Linked DNA regions of Homo sapiens. Changing the gene in region 3 together with the main gene of any one other region gives a genetic interaction. Each region holds a gene or a part of one and is shown on either strand. Other genes may lie near its edges.

Region 1 (3,500 bases), on a different chromosome or scaffold from region 3:
ATTCAGATTCCTCATCCCACATTTCCCAACCCAGAGCCCAAATAGACCCAAACCACCCCAGCCTCTGGGAGATCTCCTGGATATATTTGGTTGGTCTGGACTCTCCAGTGCTCTGGGCCCCCTCCCCTTGGACTTGTTTCTAGGGAGTTGGGACTGGAGGCCTGCAGACACATAATGGCCAGAGGCCTGATGGGGCAGGGCTAGGGGCTGCTGGGCAGTGATGCCCAATGACAGGCTGGGCGTGGAGCCCAGCGAGCAGATGCTGGCGCAGGTGTGACATCATGCCCCTGGGTAGGTGCCAGTTCTCATGCCGTCACTCCCGAACAGATCCAGCGGCCAGGGGGAAGGGAGCCTGCCTCTGAGCAGATCAATTTGGGACCACTTCCTGCCCACTAGTGGAAAAGCCCCAACTTCCACACCCTCTTCCCGGGCATGGGCAGGGTAAATTCCCTACTTCTCCTATTTTGTTCCTCTACTTACTTTTGTGGCTTTTGAGTTTCATGCGCAGAAGGCAGAGGGGCAAGAAGTGGCTTCTTGGAGTGAGGAGCAGGAAGCGTGTCCTTCAGTCCAGGAGGCCTGGGTCGGCAGGTATAGCTACTGGCATGGGGCCAGCAGTGCTGCCTTCCTCCCCAGAAGTCTGCAAACATTAGTTAGCTGCCTAGGATAGGGGCTCAGTCTGGCACAGAGCCCAGAGGGAGTGGAAGCCCAGCAGCGGGAGGGGAGTGGATCCTCTGGGATTATTCTGAATGCTCTCCCATTTCTGACCTGAACCCATCCTACTGCTAGAAAATGAGACAAAACGGGTAGTTTTGCAGCTTGTTACGTATCTAAGCTCAGATCAGCTGGGGTTGCACTCAGCATCTGGAGGCTCCAGTAGTCTCAAGTGCAAGGCAGTATGGTGGGCAGTGCCCTAGGTTATAACGCCAGCTCAGCCACTGACTATCTGAGACCTCAGTGCATGACACTCCCACTCCTGCCTCAGTTTCCTTCTCTGCAGTCTCCTGGGCTGGACAGGATTGTATGTAAGGCCTATTGAGCTCTCATACCCTGGCTTAATTCAGACTCCAGGGAAACCAGTATTTGTAAGAGCTCAGCTGCTCCCACAGCAGGACCGAGTAGACTAAGATGGATGAAGCTCGGCCCTGGGCCCACTGGAGAGTGGAAGGGCCCTCAAAGAAGGAAGGGATAAGGCTGACTCACACTCCATAGAACATACAGTAAACCTTTCCCCAGGCTACCTTGTTCTGGACTCTGGCTTGGCCAAAACTGGTATACTAGACATTTCTTTTGAATCATTTCAAATGTTCTTGATTCACTATCTCTTACTCCAGCCATTACTGCAGTTCTACTGGATAGATTCTTGCTTCAGGCCTGTGCCACACCTGGGCCTTTGCTATTGATGGCTGCAGTGACTATGCATGTGTGAACTAGTAGCGGAGCGGAGTTATCCCATGAGGTCAATCTTTCTTTTCTTTTTTTTTTTTTTTTTGAGACAGAGTCTTGCTTTGTCACCCAGGCTGGAGTGCAGTGGCACAATCTCAGCTCACTGCAACCTCTGCCTCACAGGTTCAAGCAATTCTCCTGTCTCCGCCTCCCAAGTAGCTGGGACTACAGGCACCTGCCACCACACCCAGCTAATTTTGTATTTTTAGCAGAGATGGGGTTTCACCTTGTTGGTCAGCTGGTCTCGAACTCCTGACCTCAGGTTATCCACCCACCTCAGCCTCCCAAAGCGCAGGGATTACAGGCGTGAGCACTGCGCCCGGCCTTTTTTTTTTCAGATGGAGTCTCGCTCTGTCGTCCAGGCTGGAGTGCAGTGGCAGGATCTTGGTTCATTGCAACCTCTACTTCCTGGGTTCAAGCAATTCTCCTGCCTCAGCCTCCTGAGTAGCTGGGATTACAGGCATGCGCCACCATGCCCGGCTAATTTTTGTATTTTTAGTAGAGACGGGACTTCACCATGTTGGCCAGGCTGGTCTCGAACTCCTTACCTCAAGTGATCTGCCTGCCTCGGCCTCCCAAAGTGCTGGTGAGCCACCATACCCAGCCTGGGGTAAGTCTTTGGAATCTTTGACCATTGTGGGATGGGAGTGGCAGATAAAGGTTTCTTCTTTTCTCTAGAAAATAGCTATTCATCCAGACAGTCCTAAAGAGTATTTCTTTTCTTTTCTTTTCTTTTTTTTTGGAGATGGAGTCTCGCTCTGTCGCCCAGGCTGGAGTGCTGTAGCGCAATCTCAGCTCACTGCAACCTCCGCCTCCCAGGCTCAAGCAATTTTCCTGCCTCAGTCTCCCGAGTAGCTGGGATTACAGGCACCCGCCACCATGCCCAGCTAATTTTTGTATTTCTAGTGGAGACGGGGTTTCACCATGTTGGCCAGGCTGGTCTCAAACTTCCGACCTCAGGTGATCCGCCCACCTCAGCCTCCCAAAGTGCTGGGATTACAGGCATGAGCCACCACGCCCAGACACTTTAAGGAGTATTTCAAAAAGTTTCTCAGTTCCAAGGGACTGAGCAACAGCTGCCCTTAGCAGTGGCTAATTCAATAATGCATCCTTAGAGTGGCTCTCCCTCTTTCCCTCCATGGGATCACTCCCTACTACCTAACAAGGTATCTGCACATAAGCTTCAGGCTCTGCTTTCCGGAACCCAAGGCTAAGATAGTGATCCATGTTCAGATTATGGCAAGTGGAACAAACCTAACCCAAACGCCACTATAAAAAGAATAAAGCTTGGGCAATATGGCAAAACCCCATCTCTACCAAAAAACAAAAGAAATTAGCTGGGCATGGTGGTGCAAGCCCGCGGTCCCAACCACTCGGGAGGCTAAGGCAGAGGATCCTCTGTTGCCCAGGCTGGAGTGCAGTGGCATAGTCACAGTTCAGGATGGGATCATGCCACTGCACTCCAGCCTGGGCAAAAGAGCAAGACCCCGTCTCAAATAATAATAATAATAAAATAGTTTATTGTGCCTGTGTTGCCAACACTCATAGAAAGAACCAACCTGTTGAGTCTTTAAGTTCACTGAGCATTTAAAAACATTTCCAGGTGGGGCCTACTGGATCACACCTGTAATCCTAGTACTCTGGGAGGCTGAGGTGGGCGGATCACTTGAGGTCAGGAGTTCAAGACTAGCCTGGCCAACATGGAGAAAGCCCATCTCTACTAAAAATACAAAAAAGTAGCCTGGTGTGGTGCTGTGCACTTGTAGTCCCAGCTACTCAGGAGGCTGACGCATGATAATTGCTTGAACCCAGGAGGCGGAGGTTGCAGTGAGCTGATATAGCACCACCACTCTCCAGCCTGGGTAACAGGGTGACACCTTATCTCAAAAAAAAAAAAAAAAGAAAAAGAAAAAAAGGCTGAGCTCAGTGGCTCACACCTGTAACCCCAGCACTTTAGGAGGCCGAGGCGGGTGAATCACGAGGTCAAGTGTCCGAGACCAGCCTGGCCAACATGGTGAAATCCCGTCTCTACTAAAAATAGAAAAAATTAGCTGGGC
Region 2 (3,500 bases), on a different chromosome or scaffold from region 3:
TTCCTTCCTTTCAGTAGTCTATAAACTCCTTAGAGGCAGGGACTGCTTATTCACTGCACCCCAGTACCCAACACAACACTTAGCACACAGTATGAGCTCACTAAATGTTTGCTAAGTGAATGAATGAACAAACAAAGGGATGGAAATGCGCTGTCACTTTGAAGGCAAAAATGGCACTACTGGCCTATCATCTTTAGATCCCGTCCTATTATTCTGAATTTGACTGTGTCTCCCAAGCTCTCTTACCTAATTGCCTCTGTGATCCTGACTCACAAACAGGAAGCAGCTAAAAATGGGGTAGGGTATAACTGAATAATGAAGAGATTTCTAAAAATCACAACTCTGAAGTAGCTATAGAATAAGAAATCAAGGAAAGTTTCCTACTGCAAGAAATGCTTAATGACATTAACATCATAGCTGTCAACATTACTCACTAAAGAAATGTGGTTCTCTGGAGAAATATTACTAAATTTGGCAAGAAATTTCTCAGCAGCATTCCTTTTGGCTTGCTTTTTTGATGCCCCCTTTCCTGAACAAAGAAAAAGAAATGGTAGATTTAGAAAAGAAATTAGTGTCCACAGAGGATGATCAAACGTATGAAGTACTGTGTTTAATCAGAGAACCTCACGGTTTTTATTATATACTAGACTATGTTCTTACTGACCTGATAACTTTGTTTGTTATGCTATTTTGTTTGTATAGCTATTAATTCTTTTTTTTTTTTTTTTTGAGACGGACCCTCACTTTGTCACCAGGCTGGAGTGCAGTGGCACCATCTTGGCTCACTGCAACCTCCGCCTCCTGGGTTCAAGCAATTCTCCTGCTTCAGCCTCCCAAGTAGATGGGATTACAGGTGCCCACCACCACACCTGGCTGATTTTTTGTATTTAGTACAGACAGGGTTTTGCCATGTTGGCCAGGCTGGTCTCAAACTCCTTACCTCATATGATCGGCCCACCTCAGCCTCCCAAAGGGCTGGGATTATCAGTGTGAGCCACTGTGCCAGGCCTGTATAGTTACTAATTCTTACACTTTTGAAGACATTTGTTTTAAGTTTTTCTTTAATAGTTATGCTTTCTGTTTTTCTATAATAATTGTATTTTCCTATGTCTAGCATTACTGAACCATATTTGGTTTAATTCTGACCAATTATTTAGATTTATTAAAATACATCTGAATTATAACTCCTCTCTCTCAATGTCTATTTCCTGCTTATGATCTTCTCTAAACTGACGATTATATGAAATTCCTTTTAACAGGAATAAGAAAGGCACAGGGGATGGTGGAGTTGAAAGATACCATAAATATCTACCTCCATGCTTTTGTTTTATAGATTAAAAAACTGAGGTCCAGAGAAATTAAGTAATTTGCTTAACTTCGCGAATCAAGGACTGCATCAAGGACGGAAGCTGAGGTTCCTGCTTTTGGCCTGGTGCTTTCTGTACTGGCCACACTACCTCCCAAAGGCAAATAGTTTCTTATTACTTGAAACTATTATCTAGCTAAGCTAAAATCCCATTTTAAGCCACTTTTGAAAATAACAAAAACATGCCAGAGAAGTTAACAGGAATTCTCGCTAGTACTTTTTAAAGTGACAGCGTTTCTTATAGTTTATATCCTTTATAACATAGAAGTTGCTATAATTAAGAAAGATAATTTTCATTTTTATCTCACTGCAATTATTTGCCATGTAGTCTCTTATTAATCATATAATTTTCAAGTGTAATCTTCCTCTAGTCCTATTTTCTAGATAGAATAGCTGTTAAAATCCAAGAGATTTACTATAGCTTTTTCTCCAAATTGAGGTTTTTTAAGTCAGTAATTTATCAATGAAGACTGTTTAAAGTACAGAGCCAACAGTTTGTCTTTCTATTAATAATCTATGATTTTTAAAAATATCAAATTAAGAAGACTAAGTATCTTAAGCCAAATATTTATACTTAAGTTCAACCTCAGAAAGTCAGAGACAATAAAAGAGGAGTGTATCAATTTTTCTGCATAGAAATATTTGAAAACATTACGACAGAAATTTCGATAGTCATTCATCATCTGAAAATATTTCAAATGCCTTTAATTGTAAGAAATAAGTACCAGTTTCCATAAATGACTCTAGCCTGCAAATTGTAGTATATTCTCTCTTATGAGCAGGTCCTCCCTCCTGGGAAAGGGTATATTCAGGAAGTCTCCAGCCATGATGAATAGCCAATTCCTATAAAATCAAGATGAGGCTTTAATAGTAATTTTATGCAATGGCTCAATCACATAAGTGTTTTCTTAATTTTGATCCCATTTCTATGTATATGTTTGAAAAGAATAGTGATATTCTGCAACAGAAAAAAGAGGGAAGACCCTCTATTTCTCAAAGACATTCCCGCATTTTATATTTTTATACCCCAATACCAAAACTGAAGCAGTTTTGTGCTACGAATGGTGTTCTTGCATTAAACCACAGTGAGCTGGTATCAGACATCAACTAGAAAAACAGGCTACTACCGCCCTCTTTGGCAACACCAGAGGAGACCATCTACAGGTTTCACTGCCATCAGTTCCTAAAGTCCCTCCCCTCCTAGCTATAGACTTCCAAACCCACAGCTGGCCAAGAACACATGAGGAGTAGGGACAGCAAACAACAGACTTGCATAAAGTGGGGGACAGAAGGTGAAGAAAACTATAGAAAAGCTCACTGTGCAGGAAAAGGAGACCAAAGGACTGGCTGAATAATGGGGAGGGAAATGGCCTAACAGAGCACATGGATAATCTGCAAGAAGGATATTCTGCATATAGAAATTCAAAGCTGAATATATGTGTGTGTGTTTGTGTGTGTATAGATAAAATTTTTTTTTTTTGGTAGAATAAGCAAATAGACTCCTTTTCTTCAGTTAGGTTCACTGATTTGATTTAGGCTCTCTATAAAGTCTTCTGTCTCAACAGAAGTAGAAAGAGATTTGTCACAAGAGTAGCAAGAACTATTCTTAAAGTATAAAACACTTTACCCATGTGCACTGAGGGCCTGTTGATCTTAAATGAGAATTCTATAAGCCAAAGGCAAATACTGTATATGAAAGAAAACCCAGAACATAAATAGGAAAATAATTTCAAGTTAGCTCTGTTAATCTAATGATCGTAAGTTGGAAAACAAAATATATCACTATCTTGTCTTTAAAATATTAATTCCTTGTGTTAGCCCCTCTGACATTACAAACTTATTATATATTTCATCAGTAGGCAAAGAACTGTACAACTTACCTGTAATGAACCAATAGGATTAAGCTGGTTCTTTGGTTGCTTGGAAGGGTCAGGCATTAAGGGGTCAGGAACTGCAAAGCTAAATATTTTTTAAAAGTGTTATAAAACAAAATAATTTCCCCCGAATTATGAAATAAATGACAAGCATTTTCTAATTAACTCTCTATGTCTTTGCTCTTGTCATTCCTTCTACATGGAATGCCCTTTTCTCAGACCTCTTCTATGGGAATCTGATCGGTCATCCAAGATATATC
Region 3 (3,500 bases):
AAAAGGTGTTAAGAAAATTGAGTCCAGTTTGAGCAATACGGTGGCGTTTGTGGGATATACGGGCCGTCCAGCCGCCTCACTGATTCCCCGACAGCTACAGCAGCGCCCCAGATCCTGAGAGAGGAACCAACATTCCAGGCCTGCCCCAGCTGGCTGGGCACCGGAAGCCCACTGTGTGCACAGCCCAGAACCCCCAGTGGACCCATTACCCCCGCTGTTCTGCGGCTGCCCAGCCCCTGAGCTCCCTCTGGGTCTCAGAGCTCTCCCTCCCGCTGCCCAGAGAGGGGCACAAACAGAGGCCTCGAGGACACCCAGGCCTCACATGGCTGGCGCAGGGGCCTCAGCAGATGCTGGAACCCCATAAAGGCCGCCTGGGATGTAAAGACCTACAAAGTCCAGGACTGACTCCCAGCTCGCGAAAATCCTCTTTACCATAGGTCCAAGCATCTGCCAATCATCGCCGCAACCAGGCACACTGAGTGCCGCCCACCTCCCACCTCCTGGCTGGACACCGCGGGGGCGGTGCGGATGGGAGAGCCACAGCCCGGATCTGGGCCCGTTTCCTACGGCAGCAGTGATTTTCACATTTCCAAACAGGTAGAAAGAAAAGATACGAAAGCACAGTGTTTTGCAACAGGTGGAAGTGACAGGAAAGGGCAGGGCCGTGGGACACCGCCAGGCTGTGCGCTCACGGCAGCCCTGGGTGCCTCTGCGGAGGCTCCACAAGGCGGGCAGACTCCCTGCCTTCGAGCCCACTCTCACTGGGGTGGAAAGGGGGAGGGAGGCATGGCGGCCTTCTGCCTGCACCCCCCCCCCCAGAACCCCACTGTGGGCTCCGCAGCAGCAGCTAGCCGTGCTGTCCCCCGAGAAGCACGGGGAGTCGGGCTGGGCACAGGCGACCCTTTCCAGCCCTTCCCTGCTCCACCCTAGGAACCCACTGCCTACCAGAAACAGCCTATGGCACTGATTTTATTTTAATTAATTGTTTTTTTGAGACACAATTTCGCTCTTCTCTCCTAGGCTTGCCCAGCCTGGAATGCAATGATGCGATCTCGGCTCACCGCAACCTCCGCCTCCCAGGTTCAAGCGATTCTCCTTGCTTCAGCTTCCCCAGTAGCTGGACTACAGGCGCGCGCCACCACGCCTGGCTAATTTTTGTATTTGTAGTAGAGACGGAGTTTCGCCATATTGGCCAGGCTGGTCTTGAACTCCTGACCTCAGATGAAGTAGCTGGGATTATTGGCATGTGCCACCACACCTGGCTAGTTTTTCTATTTTTAGTAGAGAGAGGGTTTCACCATGTTGGCCACGCTGGTCTCAAACTTCTGACCTTGTGATCAAACCGCCTCGGCCTCCCAAAGTGCTGGGATTACAGGCGTGAGCCACCACGCCCGGCCCCAGCCCTTTTTTTTTTCGAGACGGAGTTTCACTCTTGTTACCCAGGCTGGAGTGCAATGGCATGGTCTTGGCTCACCGCAACCTCTGCTTCCCGGGTTCAAGTGATTCTCCTGCCTCAGCCTCCAGAGTAGCTGGGATTACAGGCGTGCGCCACCACACTCAGCTAATTTTGTATTTTTAGTAGAGACAGGGTTTCACCATGTTGGTCAGGCTAACTCCCAACCTCGGGTGATCCACCCGCCTTGGCCTCCCAAAGTGCTGGGATTACAGGCATGACCGAACATGCCCAGCCCTCTTTTTAACTCATTGATGCTTTTTGGAACTTTCCTATTTCTAATAAGATTATACTTTTTGCCGGTGAGAGCGGGACAAGGCATGGACTCCAGGGCTGCCTTTCTGGGAAGGAAGGGAAGAGACGGGACTCACGCCGGCTCCATCTGCCCCAACCCACCCCCCTTGGTGATCGCCCACGCTTTCCACACCAACTGGAGGACCGGACGCCTGAGGCTTGTCTGGAAGGTTCCAGACACTCGCTGCGAGACACAATCTGAGCGGAGTTTATTAAACTTCCCACACACAAAGGAGGCTTTTTCCCTGCAGCGCTGGCAGCAAGGCTGGCCAAGGCCTTGGGCCTCAGGGCTGGGCAGTGGACACCCCTTCTCCTTGACAGCACTCTGCACATGGCAGCCTCCAGTCAGAACACACCAGCTCCCAGAATAGGAGGACCCCCTGGCAGCACCCAGGGGGCTGGAGGAAATGCAGTGGCTCCTGAATCACAGCTGTAAGCGGGGCAGCTCCTGATGGCAGACAGTGACCAGGAAGGGACAGGGCTCACCCCTCATCCCAGGGGGCCCCGCAAGGGCAAAGCCGTTACACACTCAGGGCCAGGATGAAATTGGACGCTGAACACTAGTGAGGGTGCATCACTCACTTCAAGGCAGTGGGGTCAAGCTGTGGGTAGCTGCGACGCACAGTCCAGTCCAGGTCCTGCCAACCCCTCTGCCTCCCTGCCTCCGTGTTCCCTCCCGTTCTCCCAGGCACTGGGCCAGACTAGGTTCCTGCAACCTTCTTGCCTGTCTCCACCAAGACCCTCAGGCTCTGCCCTACCGTTCAGGTGCTCACCTGAGCTCCCAGGACCTCCTCCACTGACTGTTCAGGAAAGCAGGGGGCTCACTCTCACAGTCAGGCTTCCACCCTCCAGCGTCTGTCTTCCCATTGACCCTGCATATACATTTGTCAAAACTCAAGCCAGATTTATTTATTTATTTATTTATTTATTTATTTATTTATTTATTTTTGAGACAGAGTCTCGCTGTGTCGCCCAGGCTGGAGCGCAATGGTGCGATCTCGGGTCACCGCAAGCTCCGCCTCCCAGGCTCCAGCAATGTTCTGCCTCAGCCTCCCGAGTAGCTGGGATTACAGGCACACGCCACCACACTCGGCTAACTTTTGTATTTTTAGTAGAGATGGGGTTTCACCATGTTGGCCAGGCTGGTCTCGAACTCCTGACCTCAGGCGATCCACCCACCTCAGCCTCCCAAAGTGCTGGGATTACAGGCGTGAGCCACCGCGCCCGGCCCCTAAGCGTGGGTTTCTCACTGCTGGGAGAGAGACTGTCACTGGCCCCTTTAGAGGGCACCTGCTACCCCCAGCACAGGCTCTGCCTAGCCCCTGACCAACCCATCTCACAGAGACCAGGCACAGGCTCTGCCTAGCCCCTGACCAACCCATCTCACAGAGACCAGGCACAGGCAACTGCTCCACTGACTCAAGGCACTGGCCACACCTTCTACCCGGGTCCAGACTGGGCACTGAGACATCAGAAAGGCCTCGTGGAAACACACCCTTCCCAGCCGCTCCCATTTAACCCTGACTGCTCCAGCTCCAGAGTACAAACTTCAGAGCCTGTGCCCCTGGTTTCCGCATGTCACAGCCTGCATGCTGATTAAGAAGCGTGCTGGCCGGGCGCGGTGGCTCACGCCTTTAATCCCAGCACTTTGGGAGGCTGAGGCAGGTGGATCACGAGGTCAGAAGTTCAAGACCAACCTGGCCAAGATGGTGAAACCCCGTCTCTACTAAAAAAAAAAAAAAAAAATTAGCTG
Region 4 (3,500 bases), on a different chromosome or scaffold from region 3:
CTGCCCGCCACCCAATCTGAAATCTAAAATGTATGCTCTGGCCCAGACGAGGTGGCTCACATCTATAATGCTAACACTTTGGGAGGCTGAGGCAGGAAGATCACTTAAAGCCAGGAGTTCCAAATAAACCTGGGCAACATAGTGAGACTTTGTCTATTAAAAAAATAAACAAAAGATATGCTTTTTTTTTTTTGAGATGGGGTCTTGCTGTTATGTTGCCCAGGCTGGACTTAAAACTCCTGGGCTCAGGAGATCCTACCACCTCAGCCTCCCCACAAAGTGTGTATCTGTTCTTATTCGTAAATTAATTTCAACAGTTTTCGACTTTTTAAATAGAACCAGAAACTAGTTCAAAGGGATATTTACGTAGCAGTAAGGCTTGTAAGTTTGTGATGGGCTTTTGATATTTAGGATCCCTTCAAGCTACAAGACAACTTTTTAAAAGTTATTTTGAATATATTAATTATGCTATGTCATTTATACTAACTTTTCCTATAACATGGTTGTGGGGTTTTTTTTCTTTTTTTCTTTTTTTTTTTTTTTTTTTGAGACGGAGTCTCGCTCTGTCACCCAGGCTGGAGTACAATGGCGCGATCTCCGCCCACTACAAGCTCCGTCTCCTGGGTTCACGCCATTCTCCTGCCTCAGCCTCTCAAGTAGCTGGGACTACAGGCACCCGCCACTACGCCCAGCTAATTTTTTTTTTTTTTTTTTTTGAGATGGAGTCTTGCTCTGTCGCCCAGGCTGGAGTGCAGTGGCGCGATCTTGGCTCACTGCAAGCTCCGCCTCCTGGGTTCACGCCATTCTCCTGCCTCAGCCTCCCAAGTAGCTGGGACTATAGGCGCCCGCCACCACGCCCGGCTAATTTTTTGTATTTTTAGTACAGACGGGGTTTCACCATGTTAGCCAAGATGGTCTGGATATCCTGACCTTGTGATCCGCCCGCCTCGGCCTCCCAAACTGCTGGGATTACAGGCATGAGCCACCGCGCCCGGCCCCAGCTACTTTTTTGTATTTTTAGTAAAGACAGGGTTTCACTGTGTCAGCCAGGATGGTCTCAATCTCCTGACCTCACGATCTGCCCGCCTCAGCCTCCCAAAGTGCTGGGATTACAGAAGCGAGCCACCGCACCCGGCCTTTTTTTTTCTTTTCTTTTTAAAATTATTTAAAATAGCGATGAGGTCTCCCTATGTTGTCCGGATGGTTCTCAAAATCCTGAGATCAAGTGATCTTCCCATCTAGCCTCAAAAATGCTGGGATTATAGGAGTGAGCCACAGTGCCTGGCTGCTTGTGTGGTTCTGTTTGTTGCACAGAATTAAGCTTGGAGAATTTTAAATCAGATTGGCAGTATCTAAAGTTAAAGAATAATTAAAAAAAAAAAACCTGTAATAACTCTTCCTTCCCTATAGAAACTAAAAGAGTATTTAAAGTTGGGAAAGATAAATGACAATTTTAAGTATAGGAGGTATACACTATTCCTAAACTGCATTAAAAAACAGACTGAATTGTTTTGTCTTCCTTATAACAGAATTCATTCTGCTACACATTTCTGACGTTCTGGAGTTTTAAAATACCTGTTTATAATTGATTCTTTCCCCAGCTGGTAGATGGTCTGCATTCAACACCACTGAGTCATAGCAACGCTGTATTCTTCTAGGTCTTCTAACAGTTGTGCTATCATCCAGATGATCTAACAAGTTGCAGAATTTGAAGGTCCAGCAGTCTTGGAGACATGGACTCCAGATGACCACAAACCAACTCTTGCACTTTCATCCGCATTTCCTGTTGGGTTATTTAGATCTTTCCAGCTTTACTGTCCACAGTAAAAAAAAAAGCTGACAAAAATTCAAGATTTCAGCAAGAAGATGCGGTTCCCTGGTACTTCTTAGAATTGAGTGTATTCAGAGCAGTGTGTTCAGACTGTCCAGGTATTTCAAAATCTTCCCCTGTGATGTGGGTGTGCTGCTGAGTGACCAGCACATTCCTAGCAGCAATTGGTGAACTCAGAAAAAGTCAAACTAGACATAAACGGTAGATGCAGCCCAGTAAAACTGGAAGGTAATTCAAGGAAGACTGTGGACATGGTAGGTCAATATGATAGAAAAATAATATTTGTAATCCCCTCTGAATGTCAATACTTTGAGAGCTGTCTATATTATTATGATAAAACTCTGCTTAGTAACTATGGTTAGGGTAGTAAACAGATGGGTTAAGATGATGAGAGTACAGAATAGTAGAATTATCCAAGAATCCACCTTTGGGTTCACTACCTTCTGAAATTCTCCCCCACCTCTGCCTGCCCTCAATTAAAGAAACACTGAACTTCATTAGATTTTGAATGTCCTAAAAATATTTCATTTTCCTTTACTTATTTTTAATATCTTGAAAAATACTTTTTTGATAATCACATATAGTCAAAGGGAGTGAAATAAATTTCGAAGTGTGTTGGGTGTGAATCTTATGTATTTTTCTTGGGAACATGAATAAAAACAGTAATTATAATCTTGTAGTAATTGAACATTAAAAACTAGTATAGATAATAAGTGGCATAAAGAGAAGTCTTTTGATGGATATTGGAATGGAGTATTTGAAAAGATCTAAAGAATATAAGGAAGGCAGAAGTCTGCCTATTATTTAATAGGCCCACATTAGCTAGATAAGCCAGACTTAAAGAATCTTTAAACATTCTTATTAAGTTATTAAAACAACACCATTTTTACTGAAGAAATATCAGATATATTTTTCAAAAATTACCATATAAAACATTAGTAAATGCTACCATTTTGGGGATTTTCCTACATTAGAGATTTACTTGCTTAAAATACACTTATGAAACTTAGTTCAATAATACTAAATCCTCTGAAAATTTAACTCTGTGAAGAGTAATATAAAAAGCACCTTCTAAAAATTCCTTGTTGTGACACAGGGTCTCATCTGTTGCCCAGGCTGGAGTGCAGTGGCATGATCACAGCTCTCATTGCAGCCTCAACCTCCAGGGCTCAGGTGATACTCCCACCTCAGCCTCCCAACACAGCTGGGATCACAGGCACTCACTACTGCGCCTGGCGCTTTTTTTTTTTGGGGGGGGGGGGGTTGGGGACGATGTTGGAGGGAGCTGGGACAGGGTCTTACTATGTGGCCCAGGCAAGTCTAGAACTCCTAGGGTCAAGCAATTCTCCCACCTCAGCCTCCCAAATGTGTTGGAATAACAGGCATGAGCCACTGCGCCTGTCCTAAAGTTTTTAACAAGAAAACCCCAGTAGGATGTTTTCATCATTATTAAAACGATTTATTATTGGGATCAATGAATCATTGAGCTGTATGAGTTCCTTTTTTTTTTTTTTTTGAGACAGAGTCTCACTCTGTCACCCAGGCTGGAGTGCAGCGGCACAATCTTGGCTCACTGCAACCTCCACCTCCCAGGTTCAAGCAATTCTCCTGCCTCAGCCTCCCAAATAGCTGGGACCATAGGTGCACGCCACCACACCTGGCTAATTTT
Region 5 (3,500 bases), on a different chromosome or scaffold from region 3:
GGAGGTTAAAGTGGGAGGATCCCTTGAGCCCAGGAGGTTGAGGCTGCAGTGAGCCGTAATTGTGCCACTGCACTCCAGCCTGGGCAACAGCAAGACCCTGTCTCAAAAAAAAAAAAAGGAAGAAGAAATGAAAAATAGCTGATGCCACATGGTGTTCTTAGATGCTCACCCTGTACTCTTCAGGACTGATGCCTTCTCAGTAAATCGTATTGTTCCCCTAAGTGAGATCACAAGAAAGACAGTCCTCTGCTCTACCTTCTCAACCTTGAGACTTTGTAAGTGACACCATTAAAGCAGTCTGAGCAGGGCTTTTCAAACAGTGTTCTGTAATGTGCTACTGAAAGAGGAAGCAAAGCTCTCCACCTAGATTGGAGCATCTCGACTGCTGTCAGGTTAATGTAGTGTTGGGATTTCTTCTGCTTAAGATATCCTTTGAAAAATGAGTCCTGCAGCTTTAACCAAAAAGAAAAAAAAAAGATTTTAAAAAAAAAAGTATTCTCAGCGAGGCATGGTGGCTCACGCCTGTAATCCCAGCACTTTGGGAGGCCAAAGCGGGTAGATCACCTGAGGTCAGGAGTTTGAGACCAGCCTGGCCAACATGGTGAAACCCCATCTCAACTAAAAATGCAACAATTAGCTGGGCATGATGGCAGATGCCTGTAATCCCAGCTACTCAGGAGGCTAAGGCAGGAAAATCACTTGAACCCAGGAGGTGGAGGTTGCAGTGAGCCGAGATTGCATCATTGCACTCCAGCCTGGGTGACAAAGCGAGACTCCACCTCCAAAGGAAAAAAAAAGTATTCTGGTATTTACTGACACCTGGATATTGGGACAAGTTACTTTGGTCTTGAGGAAACTAAAGGTGACATGTAGAGTGAGGGATGGGGAAAAATAGCAATTGTTATTTCAAAGACAATAGATTTTGAAAAATTATGCTCCTGTAAGACATTTGTTATCTCTAAAGTTTTCCAGCATAAGCCAAAGTGTTTTTTTTCAGAATTTGGTCAGTGTAGCCCAGAGGTCCAGTCTAGATGGTGTTTGGTGTAAGACTTATGGTTTCACTGGAATTCCTTCACACCAATCCTTGAAGGTCTGCCCCATTTGTGCTAGGCTGAGGCTATCTGGTTATGTGAAGCCCATAGCTAGGGGCCTGGAGGTCCCTATGTTAAAATTTGACTCACGGGACAAATAAGAACTGCCTCCTGCCTCCTTTTCTTACCTGTGTTTTGTAACGAGTTATTTTTAAGTTGCATCCAGACATCCAGCCTCTATGTATACTTCTCCCTGGTCCTCTACATTCTTTCTTTTCTTTGTGACCTCTGTTAAGTTTGTTAAAGGGATGGGAAGGGGTGCTCATTTGTTGAGCACTTTCTATGTGCCAGGCATTATGTTAGGTGCTTTGAATATACTATTTAATACTCAAAACAGCCTTATGAGATAGGTACTCTCATCCCTAATTTTAGGTGAGCAAATTATAAACATGAGAGAGGCTAAGTAACTTTTCTCTAACTCATATTTCTCTGTTAATAATAAAAGACGTGTGAATTAGTGATGATTTTCTCTCAGACTCAAACCCAGTTTTCTTTCCACCTTTCCTCTACACTTTGTAGTATTAGTTCCCCTTTTGTTGCTCTTCCAGGGAAAGGTGATCTATGGATAGCCTAACTACGGATTGTTGTGAGATCCTGAATGCTAACCATGGTGTTACTGACTTTCCCTAGGGTCCTATCCTTCCCCCAAAGCTGGAGCAACTCTGGTCGTGTACAAGGACTTGCTAGTGCTGTTTGGTGGCTGGACGCGGCCAAGCCCTTATCCCCTACACCAGCCAGAGAGATTCTTTGATGAAATACACACTTACTCACCCTCTAAAAATTGGTAAGTCACAAAGATAAACTCTTTAAATCTGGAAGAAAAGGCCTTAAATCAGTGGATTCTTTGTTTTTTTGTGTCAAGAGTCCCTTTGAGAATTAGATGGAAAGCTGTGGACTCTTTTCCCAGGAGGGGAAAAATGCACATATTCACAGATTTTACCAACAGTTTCAGAGAGTTTACAGGACTCTCTTAGAACCCTGCATTTAGAATCCTTATTCTAAAGAGAAAAAATAGAAGAGATTTATTCCTCTTTCAAGAAAAATGAATGAGCCAGTTGAAGAACAGCGAGCTCTTCAGCTTTGGCTGCTAACACTCCAGGAGTGTTGTAGATCCAGATGATTCCTTACTCCTAACTGTGTCTCCAAGACTTACTCTGAATTGTTTTTCAAACATATATCTCTTAATGACAGCAACCGCCGTTTCTTGTAATGGAAGACTTAGTACGTGGCGCTTGTTAGCTGTTACTGATCAGGACCATAGGGAAAGGTAGCAGGTGGCAGGTGGTGCTTTGTCAGCAAACCAGGCCAAAGAAGCCATGATCTTGTCTCTTGTCATCGTTTTCTCATCTCTCTCCCTCCAGACCGTTTACATTCAGAACTTGAAAGAAGATAACTTTAAGCAAACTTGTAGGAAAGGCATAAATACATTATGCCATCCTCTACTTATTATCCCAACAAATCTCTGCTGAAAGTGATAGGATTATCATTTTAAATGGATGCCTACTTACTATTTTTACATAAAGTGTGTGGTGCTGACTTCTTGACTTCCTCCTGTCTTTTTACATTAGGTGGAACTGCATTGTGACAACCCATGGGCCACCTCCCATGGCTGGCCACTCCTCCTGTGTGATAGATGATAAAATGATTGTCTTTGGTGGCTCTTTAGGATCCCGGCAAATGTAAGTACATTTGGTTTGCTCCATATGAGCCTGAAGGTAAATACTCCTGGGAATAACAGGTTTAAAAGTGAATTAGGGACCAGGTGCCTAATTCACACCTGTAATCCCAGCATTTTGGGAGGCCAAGGTGGGTGGATCACCTGAGGTCAGGAGTTTGTGACCAGCATGGCGAACATGGCGAAGCCCCATCTCTACTAAAAATACAAAAATTAGCCGGGCATGGTGGCACACACCTGTAGTCCCAGTTACTTGGGAGACTAAGGCAGGAGAATCGCTTGAACCTGGGAAGTGGCGATTGCAGTGAGCCAAGATCACCCCATTGCATTCCAGCCTGGGCAACAGATCGAGACTCTTAAGGAAAAAAAAAAAAAAAGTAAGTTAGGGTCAGTATTCCTGAGCATGGCTCTAATTAATCCAATTAGTTATCTCATCCTAGCATTCTGTTCTTTAATCCCTTAATCACAGACCAATAAATTGAAAAATTTGCTCTATAAAATCATAGTTATATAGAATCTCTTTGACATATGGTTCTATTCAGTAGGATCAAATTCTGATGGAACCTCCACCTTGCCTGCTGTGCTGTGCCTGCAGAAGGCCAACTTTCGAGAACAGAATGCTTTTACTTATTCTACTTTATTACCCAGCTCTTGCCCTTTTGGGCTTTAGAGGAGAAGAGGGGGAGATTGACAGGACAAGTGGAAATGGTGGGCCCTCCAAATGTGATAGGTTG
Region 6 (3,500 bases), on a different chromosome or scaffold from region 3:
TGGTCTCAAACTCCTGACCTCAAGTGATCCACCTGCCTCATCCCCCCATAGTGCTGGGATTACAGGCTTGACCCTCTGCACCCGGCTGAATATCCAGTTTTTCTAGCACCATTTGTTGAAGAGACTGTTCTTTCACTAAAGATGGTCTTGGCATCCTTTGTCAAAAATGAATTACCATATATGCAAGGGTTTTCTGAGTTCTCTATTCCATTAGTCTATATGTCTATCCTTGCCAGTACCAGCCACACTGTCTTGATTACTGTAGGTTTTATAGTAAGTTTCAAAATTGGGAAGTATGAGTCTTCTAACTTTGTCCTTTTCCAAGCTCTGGTTGGTGATGTTCCCGTAGGTTTCTCAGAGGCTGTGTTGATCAACATGAAAAACTTAATCAGCAAAAACATAAATTTTTTTTTTCATGCTAATAGCTAAATTTATTCAATTGTCTATAGTCAACAGGTGAAAAGAATGGAAAACTGTGGTCTCCAGATGAAGAGGTTTCCCCTGAAGTACTAGCAAAGGTAAATTTGTTTAGGCCTTGATAATCTTCATGTTTAAAAAAGGGACATTTTGTAGTTATCTTCCTCACCTTTAAAAAATTTAATAAACAGAGATGGGATCTTGCTGTGTTGCTCAGTTTGGTCTTGAACTCCTGGGCTCAGCTGATCCTCCCACTTCAGCCTCCCAAAGTGCTGGGATTATGAGCTTAAGCCATCGTGCCTAGCTGGGAGCCTTTTTTAATTAAACCTAATAGTTAATAAGCATTTGTTAAGGAGGTACTTTATTTTAAAATCCATTGCAAAAAATGGTTTATTGAAGACATTGTGGTTGTCATTGTTTATTACATGTCAGTGTCTTCTGCCTGCTAAAGCAATCTTAATGAGGCTGTTTTATAGAGAGACTGTTTATAGAATGACGGTGCTCAGAGGCATCTTAAATCCAGCCTCATCACCACTATCTACAAGCATATGAATATTAACTTGGCAAAGATAGGTAATTGTCAAGCTGGGCACTGTGGCAGATTTGGGATTTAAAATAAGATTGTATCATCTTCTTTGATAATCTGTTTCACTTTGTGTTGCTTCATCATCATCATATATTCTATCAATTCATTTTTCCTGGTTGTCAATAAATATAATAAATAATACTTTGATTTGTTTTTCACACCTATTATCCCAGCACTTTGGGAGGCAGAGCAGGAGGATCGCTTGAGCCCAAGAGTTCAAGACCAACCTGGGCAGCATAGTGAGCCATGTCTCTACAAAATATTAAAAATAATTTAGTTGGGCTAGGCATGGTGGCTCACGCCTATAATCCCAGCACTTTGGGAGGCTGAGGCAGGCAGATCACTTGGGGTCAGGAGTTCAAGACCAGTCTGGACAACATGGTGAAACCCCTTGTCTACTAAAAATACAAAAACTAGCTAGGCATGGTGTTGCACATCTGTAATCCCAGCTACTTCGGAGGCTGAGGCAGGACAGTCACTTGAACCTGGGAGGTAGAGGTTGCAGTGAGCCAAGGTCCCGCCACCGCCCTCCAGCTTGGGCAACAGAGTGAAACTCGGTCTCAAATAATAATAATGATAATTTGGCCGGGTGTGGTGGTGCATACCTATAGTTCCACCTACTCAGAAAGCTGAGGCAGGAGGATCGCTTGAGCCCAGGAGGTCAAGGCTACAGTGAGTTGTGATCATGCCAGTACACTCCAGCCTGGGTGACAGAGCAGATAGAGATGATTGTTACTAAATTTGTGACATTTAATAGATGTAAAGCTCAGTTGAAAAGTGGCAGATTTGGGATTTAAAATAAGATTGTATCATCTTCTTTGATAATCTTTCACTTTGTGTTGCTTTGTAGTCATCATATATTCTATCAGTTCATTTTTCCAGGTTGTCAATAAATATAATAAATAATACTTTGATTTTTTGGCTAGCTTTTTCACATATATTGGTAACAATCTTTTGACTAGACATTTCTAAGTAATTATGACTACCAATAATTACACAAAATCCCATTTTTTTGGTCACAATGTTAAATGAGACTGAATCAGACTTGATGGTTTCTTCAAAGTAGTTTTTCAATACCACAAAACTGAAACTCTCAAGTTATTTTCAGTCACCACAATCAGTACAGTTGTGGGGTGTGTGTGTGTGTGTGTGTGTGTGTGTGTGTGTGTGTGTGTTTTGGTTTTTTTATGAAACAGAGTTTTGCTCTGTCACCCAGGCTGGAGTGCAGTGGCACAATCTCAGCTCACTGCAACCTCTGCCTCCCGGGTTCAAGCAATTCTCATGCCTCAGCCTCCTGAGTAGCTGGGACTACAGGCGTGTGCCACCATGCCTGACTAATTTTTTTTTTTTTTTTTTTTTAGTAGAGACGGGGTTTTTTAGTATAGACACGGTTTCACCATGTTGGCTAGGCTGGTCTCAAACGCCTGACCTCAAGTGATCCACCTGCCTTGGCCTCCCAAAGTGCTGGGATTACAGGCGTGAGTCACCACCCCCGGCCTGTATAGTTTAAATTGTTGTTTTTAAAGTATATGTTTTCAAATAGTTTCAAAATCTTGCACAAACATCTAAGTATGAGAAGCCTAAATTCTGGAACCAGACTTTTAAGCAAGTTATCTATGATAATAATGTGTCTCAATTGCCTTATCTGTTGGAAAAAAAAAAATCTTCCTCATAAGAATTTTTTGGGAGATTAAATAAGTTAATACATTTACAGATCTAAGAAAAGTGCCTGGCACTGGTTAAGCACAGAGTAAATATTAGTTCGTATTGTTGCTGTTATTATCCCATAGACTTATTTAATAAAATGTCTGCTGATGGAGATGAGTAATCTCATTAATCTAATTAAATTAATTTTCCCTTTAATTGGAATTTTAAGTTGCTTTCTTTTTTTAGCATGTTAATATTTTATAGGTACAGGCAATTAAACTTCTGGTAAGGTGGCTGTTGGGTATGAAAAACAACCAGTCTAAATCTGCCAATTCAACCCTTCGGTTATTATCAGCGATGTTGGTTAGTGAGGGTGACCTGACAGAGCAAAAGAGGATCAGGTGAGATTTTTCTTTCTTTCCAGTTTTCTTAGTGCTGAAATTTTGGTGGAATTTACATAGGAATTATTTACCTAATGAATACTGAATGGTGTAATTACACCATGATCTTCAGGGTCAGATCTTATGTACTCATTTAGGGTTTGTCTGTCTGTCAGTATTGTTATTTTAATAGTGCCAATATATTTTTCTTCATTCCTAAAGAAGAGGAACTTTTTCCAGTAAATACATAATCATAATCACTATATTGTACTATTACAGTTAGCATCAACATTTGGTTCAATTAAACAAGTATTTGTTAAACTTCTACTTCATAAAACACTGTGAAAAGCATTGCAGCAAAAATAAGTAGGAAAAGTCCCTGCCTTCAAAGAGCATCCCTGTATTAAAGCGATTAAATAAGTGGAGTGACTTGAGTCCCATGAAAGTAATAAAAATTTAAGTGGCAGCCA
Region 7 (3,135 bases), on a different chromosome or scaffold from region 3:
CCTGTAATCCTAGCACTTGGGGAGGCTGAGGCAGGTGGATCACTTGAGGTCAGGAATTCAAGACCAGCCTGGCCAATATGGTGACGACCCCATCTCTACTAAAAATACAAAAATTAGCCGGGCATGGTGGTAGGCGCCTGTAATTCCAGCTACTCAAGGCTGAGGCAGGAGAATTGCTGGAACCCAGGAGGCAGAGGTTGCAGTGAGCCAAGATCGCTCCACTGCAATCCAGCCTGGGCAACAGAGCGAGACTCTGTCTCAAAAAAAAGAAAGAAAGAAAGAAAGAAGAGTCTTAAGTGACGTCTCTCATTTCCCTGTGTGAGATGAAGTCAGTTGAATACACTCTAGTTTTCTTCCTGGAGCTCAAGACCCACACTTCTCTCTCAGGGGCCTGGAGATTCCCCAATAGGCAGCAATACTGTTTCTTCCCTCCAAAGCCAACAGACTACCGTTCTCCAGCTCTTCTGATAGTGAAAGCCTAATCTGCAAATAAGCATGTCCTTTAAATGGGTTCCGTTCAATTCCAGGGTCTCCTCCTTTGGGCCAGGATGTCTTTGAGTATATAGGTGAGGGCTGAGTGGGGAGGGTAGCAAGCAAGACAATTTACCTGGAAAGTGTTCCTCCAACAACAGTCCCCACCTCTGGTACTGTGTAGATTTCATCCACCTGAAGCCAAAGAAAACGCTATCAATGGCCTGCCAAGTAGGGCTGGTGGGTCCAAAATCTCTAAACAGACTCTGGGTTTGGTCTGAAGCAGCCCCTCCCTGTTTCCCAGCCTATTAGATGTTTGGGCAGTCAACTACCTGGAACTCCGTCAGCTGCTGCATGAGTTCCTCCTGCTCTTTGCTGTTGGTGAGTGGCGGCAGAATATTCAGAAAGACTTTGAGGAGGTCCAGACTCTCTCCAGACACACTGGACAATGTGAAGATGGGGGTGACACTGTAGAGGGAGGCATGGAATGGACAGATGAAGACAGTCCAAACAGGAGGCAGAGGCCAGAGCCCCATACATGGAAAGGTGAGCTTTGTTCTGGCTGGGGGCCCCTCTCTCCTGTCTGCAAATGGCTCAGGAACTCTGGGCCTTCTTGTGAGCCAGTCGAGCAATGTCACACAAAAAGCCCATCCGAGCCCAAGGGAAACAGCAAATGCCTGGTATAGCACTTCATCGCCATGGTCCCAGGCATCAGCAGTGCTCCAGGTTGGCTCGGGAGGAGGGTCAAGCCCTTTAGCAAGATGCCCCTCCACAATCCCAAGCTGAAACACCCGCAGAACTAAGCCAGAACTGGTCTGGCCCTGGAGAAGTAGGATATCATGCTTCTGGGCCCTGGGCTCTGTGGCAGCCTTCCTAGTGGATCAGGGCTTTAGAGTAAGGTGGGCTTACTTGGGTGACTGAGCAAACTGCTGGGCAGCAGTGACGGCATCATCCTCAGAGGTGACCAGCATGGGGACCTTGTGGCAGCCAGGCTGCTTGAGGACCCGCTCCAGCTGGCGTACTGTCCTCTCCACTGTGGTCTTGGCACATAGGTCGATCTTGCTGACCACGATGAAGAAGGGCACTTTCAGGGCCAGGGCCAGCCCCAGATGTTCCCTTGTGGTGCCAGCTGCCTCATAAGGACAGCAAGCAGCAGGAGAGAAGAGTGAGAATGCAGGAGGGAGGAGAGGGAAGAAGAGGAGCATTGGTCTGTCTCCAAGATTTGAGGCCCAGGGTAGGAGAGTCAGCACCCCCCTTCAGCCCTGTCCCTGCCCTAATGCCTCGTACCAATCCCAGTGTTGGCACTGACGAGGAGCAGGGCGCAGTCGGGGCAGTATGATGTGAGGCCAAAGATGGTGGTGTGTAGGTACTTATGGTGGCCTGCCAGGTCGATGAAGGTGATCATCTTGGAGCTGCTCTCACAGATCTCTTCTGCTGTCCGTGAGTCGCTGTAATTCACCACCTGGCCCAGGGCCCAGGGCCCTCAGTGCCTCCTGCCAGCCCTTCCAACCCCTTCAGAGTTGCCAGGACCTAAACCATTCCCTGGGTGACCCTGCCTCTTAATCTTGACCCCATTTTTTATTTAATTTAGTTGATTCCCCATTGATTTCCTAAGAGGGGCAGAGCTTGTTCACAGTCCCCTCAGGGCATTCATCTATACTATTTCAAAAAGTCTCCACACTCTACCCCCATCCTATGTCCTTCACTACTACCATCCCATCCTCAGAGTCTGGCCCCATTGGGTCCCATTGATCCCATGCACCTCTCCCTTGCTGTTAAAGCCCAGGATCTCGAAGCTGATGCTGGAGGTTCGGCCAGACTGAATCTCATGCAGGTGGCGGAAAAGGTTGAGCCGAGCCCGGCCCCGCCCATTGTCCAGCTCTCCCTGGGTCAGGACTCCAAGCAGAGTTGACTTCCCAGAGTCCACATTCCCCAGGACGGCCACACGGAGGTCTAGGAACTGTGGATGAATTGCCAGAGATAAGAACTCCAATCTCTCACCCCTCTAACTGAAGACTGGGTCAAGGGCAGTGACGCTCCCTAGGGAGCAAGTGATGAACTGGAAGCCCCCAGGATCCCAGGCCAGGAGACAGCCTGCCACCACAGGGCCCTTCCACAGTGTGGACATGAGAGACAGGGATGGGTGTGTGCTCACCTGTTGGTTGTCAGGGACCTTTCGTACTAGCACCTCGGTGATCTTCCGGGGCATGTCGCTATCATAATCCACTTCTCGCTCTCGAAGAACGGTTATGTCTGCCCCAACCCTGTCACAGCAAGGCCACAGCTGCCATATCTCACCTGTCCTTCTCCTATTCCAGGCTCGCTCTGGACCTACAGACTTCCTGCACCTCCCACAGAGCTCCCAATACCTTAGTGCACTTCCTACCACCCTCCAATCTATTCCTCATTCACAGTTCCCTTTAAAACAAATATACATATCTTAATTCAAGGAGCAAAACAGCCTAGGTCCAGTGAGGAGGGGACCAAAACACTAACCCTCCCCACTTCAGCCCTTTGTCAAGAGAAGGAAAGTCCCACCTTGGCCCCTCAGGCCCTAGGTAACTGGGTATGCATGGGTCCCCCCAAGTCAGGTAAAGGAGAACTGGTGGGGAAGGGGAAGCATACTTCTCTGCCATCCGGTGCAGGGTCTTGAGCGAAGCTCGC

Evidence for each region.
Region 1: changes in STK11 (region 3) and MPV17 together harm fitness more than expected from each alone (negative genetic interaction), as found in Homo sapiens cells (one large-scale study listed by BioGRID).
Region 2: changes in STK11 (region 3) and PRKRA together harm fitness more than expected from each alone (negative genetic interaction), as found in Homo sapiens cells (one large-scale study listed by BioGRID).
Region 4: changes in STK11 (region 3) and CSNK1A1 together harm fitness more than expected from each alone (negative genetic interaction), as found in Homo sapiens cells (one large-scale study listed by BioGRID).
Region 5: changes in STK11 (region 3) and FBXO42 together harm fitness more than expected from each alone (negative genetic interaction), as found in Homo sapiens cells (one large-scale study listed by BioGRID).
Region 6: changes in STK11 (region 3) and PDS5A together harm fitness more than expected from each alone (negative genetic interaction), as found in Homo sapiens cells (one large-scale study listed by BioGRID).
Region 7: changes in STK11 (region 3) and GTPBP2 together harm fitness more than expected from each alone (negative genetic interaction), as found in Homo sapiens cells (one large-scale study listed by BioGRID).

Annotation. Positions count from the first base shown.
Region 1 is NC_000002.12:27,316,598-27,320,097, forward strand, and holds part of MPV17 (mitochondrial inner membrane protein Mpv17), read right to left. Parts: intron 577-3,500; exon of another isoform or gene 503-576; coding exon of another isoform or gene 481-502; intron 1-480. UniProt on the Homo sapiens protein: Non-selective channel that modulates the membrane potential under normal conditions and oxidative stress, and is involved in mitochondrial homeostasis.
Region 2 is NC_000002.12:178,441,176-178,444,675, forward strand, and holds part of PRKRA (interferon-inducible double-stranded RNA-dependent protein kinase activator A), read right to left. Parts: intron 3,326-3,500; coding exon 3,247-3,325; intron 2,210-3,246; coding exon 2,092-2,209; intron 530-2,091; coding exon 435-529; intron 1-434. UniProt on the Homo sapiens protein: Activates EIF2AK2/PKR in the absence of double-stranded RNA (dsRNA), leading to phosphorylation of EIF2S1/EFI2-alpha and inhibition of translation and induction of apoptosis.
Region 3 is NC_000019.10:1,208,778-1,212,277, reverse strand, and holds part of STK11 (serine/threonine-protein kinase STK11), read right to left. Parts: intron 1-3,500. UniProt on the Homo sapiens protein: Tumor suppressor serine/threonine-protein kinase that controls the activity of AMP-activated protein kinase (AMPK) family members, thereby playing a role in various processes such as cell metabolism, cell polarity, apoptosis and DNA damage response.
Region 4 is NC_000005.10:149,499,440-149,502,939, forward strand, and holds part of CSNK1A1 (casein kinase I isoform alpha), read right to left. Parts: intron 1-3,500.
Region 5 is NC_000001.11:16,254,981-16,258,480, reverse strand, and holds part of FBXO42 (F-box only protein 42), read left to right. Parts: intron 1-1,721; coding exon 1,722-1,875; intron 1,876-2,659; coding exon 2,660-2,770; intron 2,771-3,500. UniProt on the Homo sapiens protein: Substrate-recognition component of some SCF (SKP1-CUL1-F-box protein)-type E3 ubiquitin ligase complex. Specifically recognizes p53/TP53, promoting its ubiquitination and degradation.
Region 6 is NC_000004.12:39,866,412-39,869,911, reverse strand, and holds part of PDS5A (sister chromatid cohesion protein PDS5 homolog A), read left to right. Parts: intron 1-449; coding exon 450-518; intron 519-2,914; coding exon 2,915-3,051; intron 3,052-3,500. UniProt on the Homo sapiens protein: Probable regulator of sister chromatid cohesion in mitosis which may stabilize cohesin complex association with chromatin. May couple sister chromatid cohesion during mitosis to DNA replication.
Region 7 is NC_000006.12:43,623,130-43,626,264, forward strand, and holds part of GTPBP2 (GTP-binding protein 2), read right to left. Parts: coding exon 3,097-3,135; intron 2,736-3,096; coding exon 2,627-2,735; intron 2,432-2,626; coding exon 2,234-2,431; intron 1,934-2,233; coding exon 1,759-1,933; intron 1,601-1,758; coding exon 1,381-1,600; intron 940-1,380; coding exon 804-939; intron 667-803; coding exon 608-666; intron 1-607.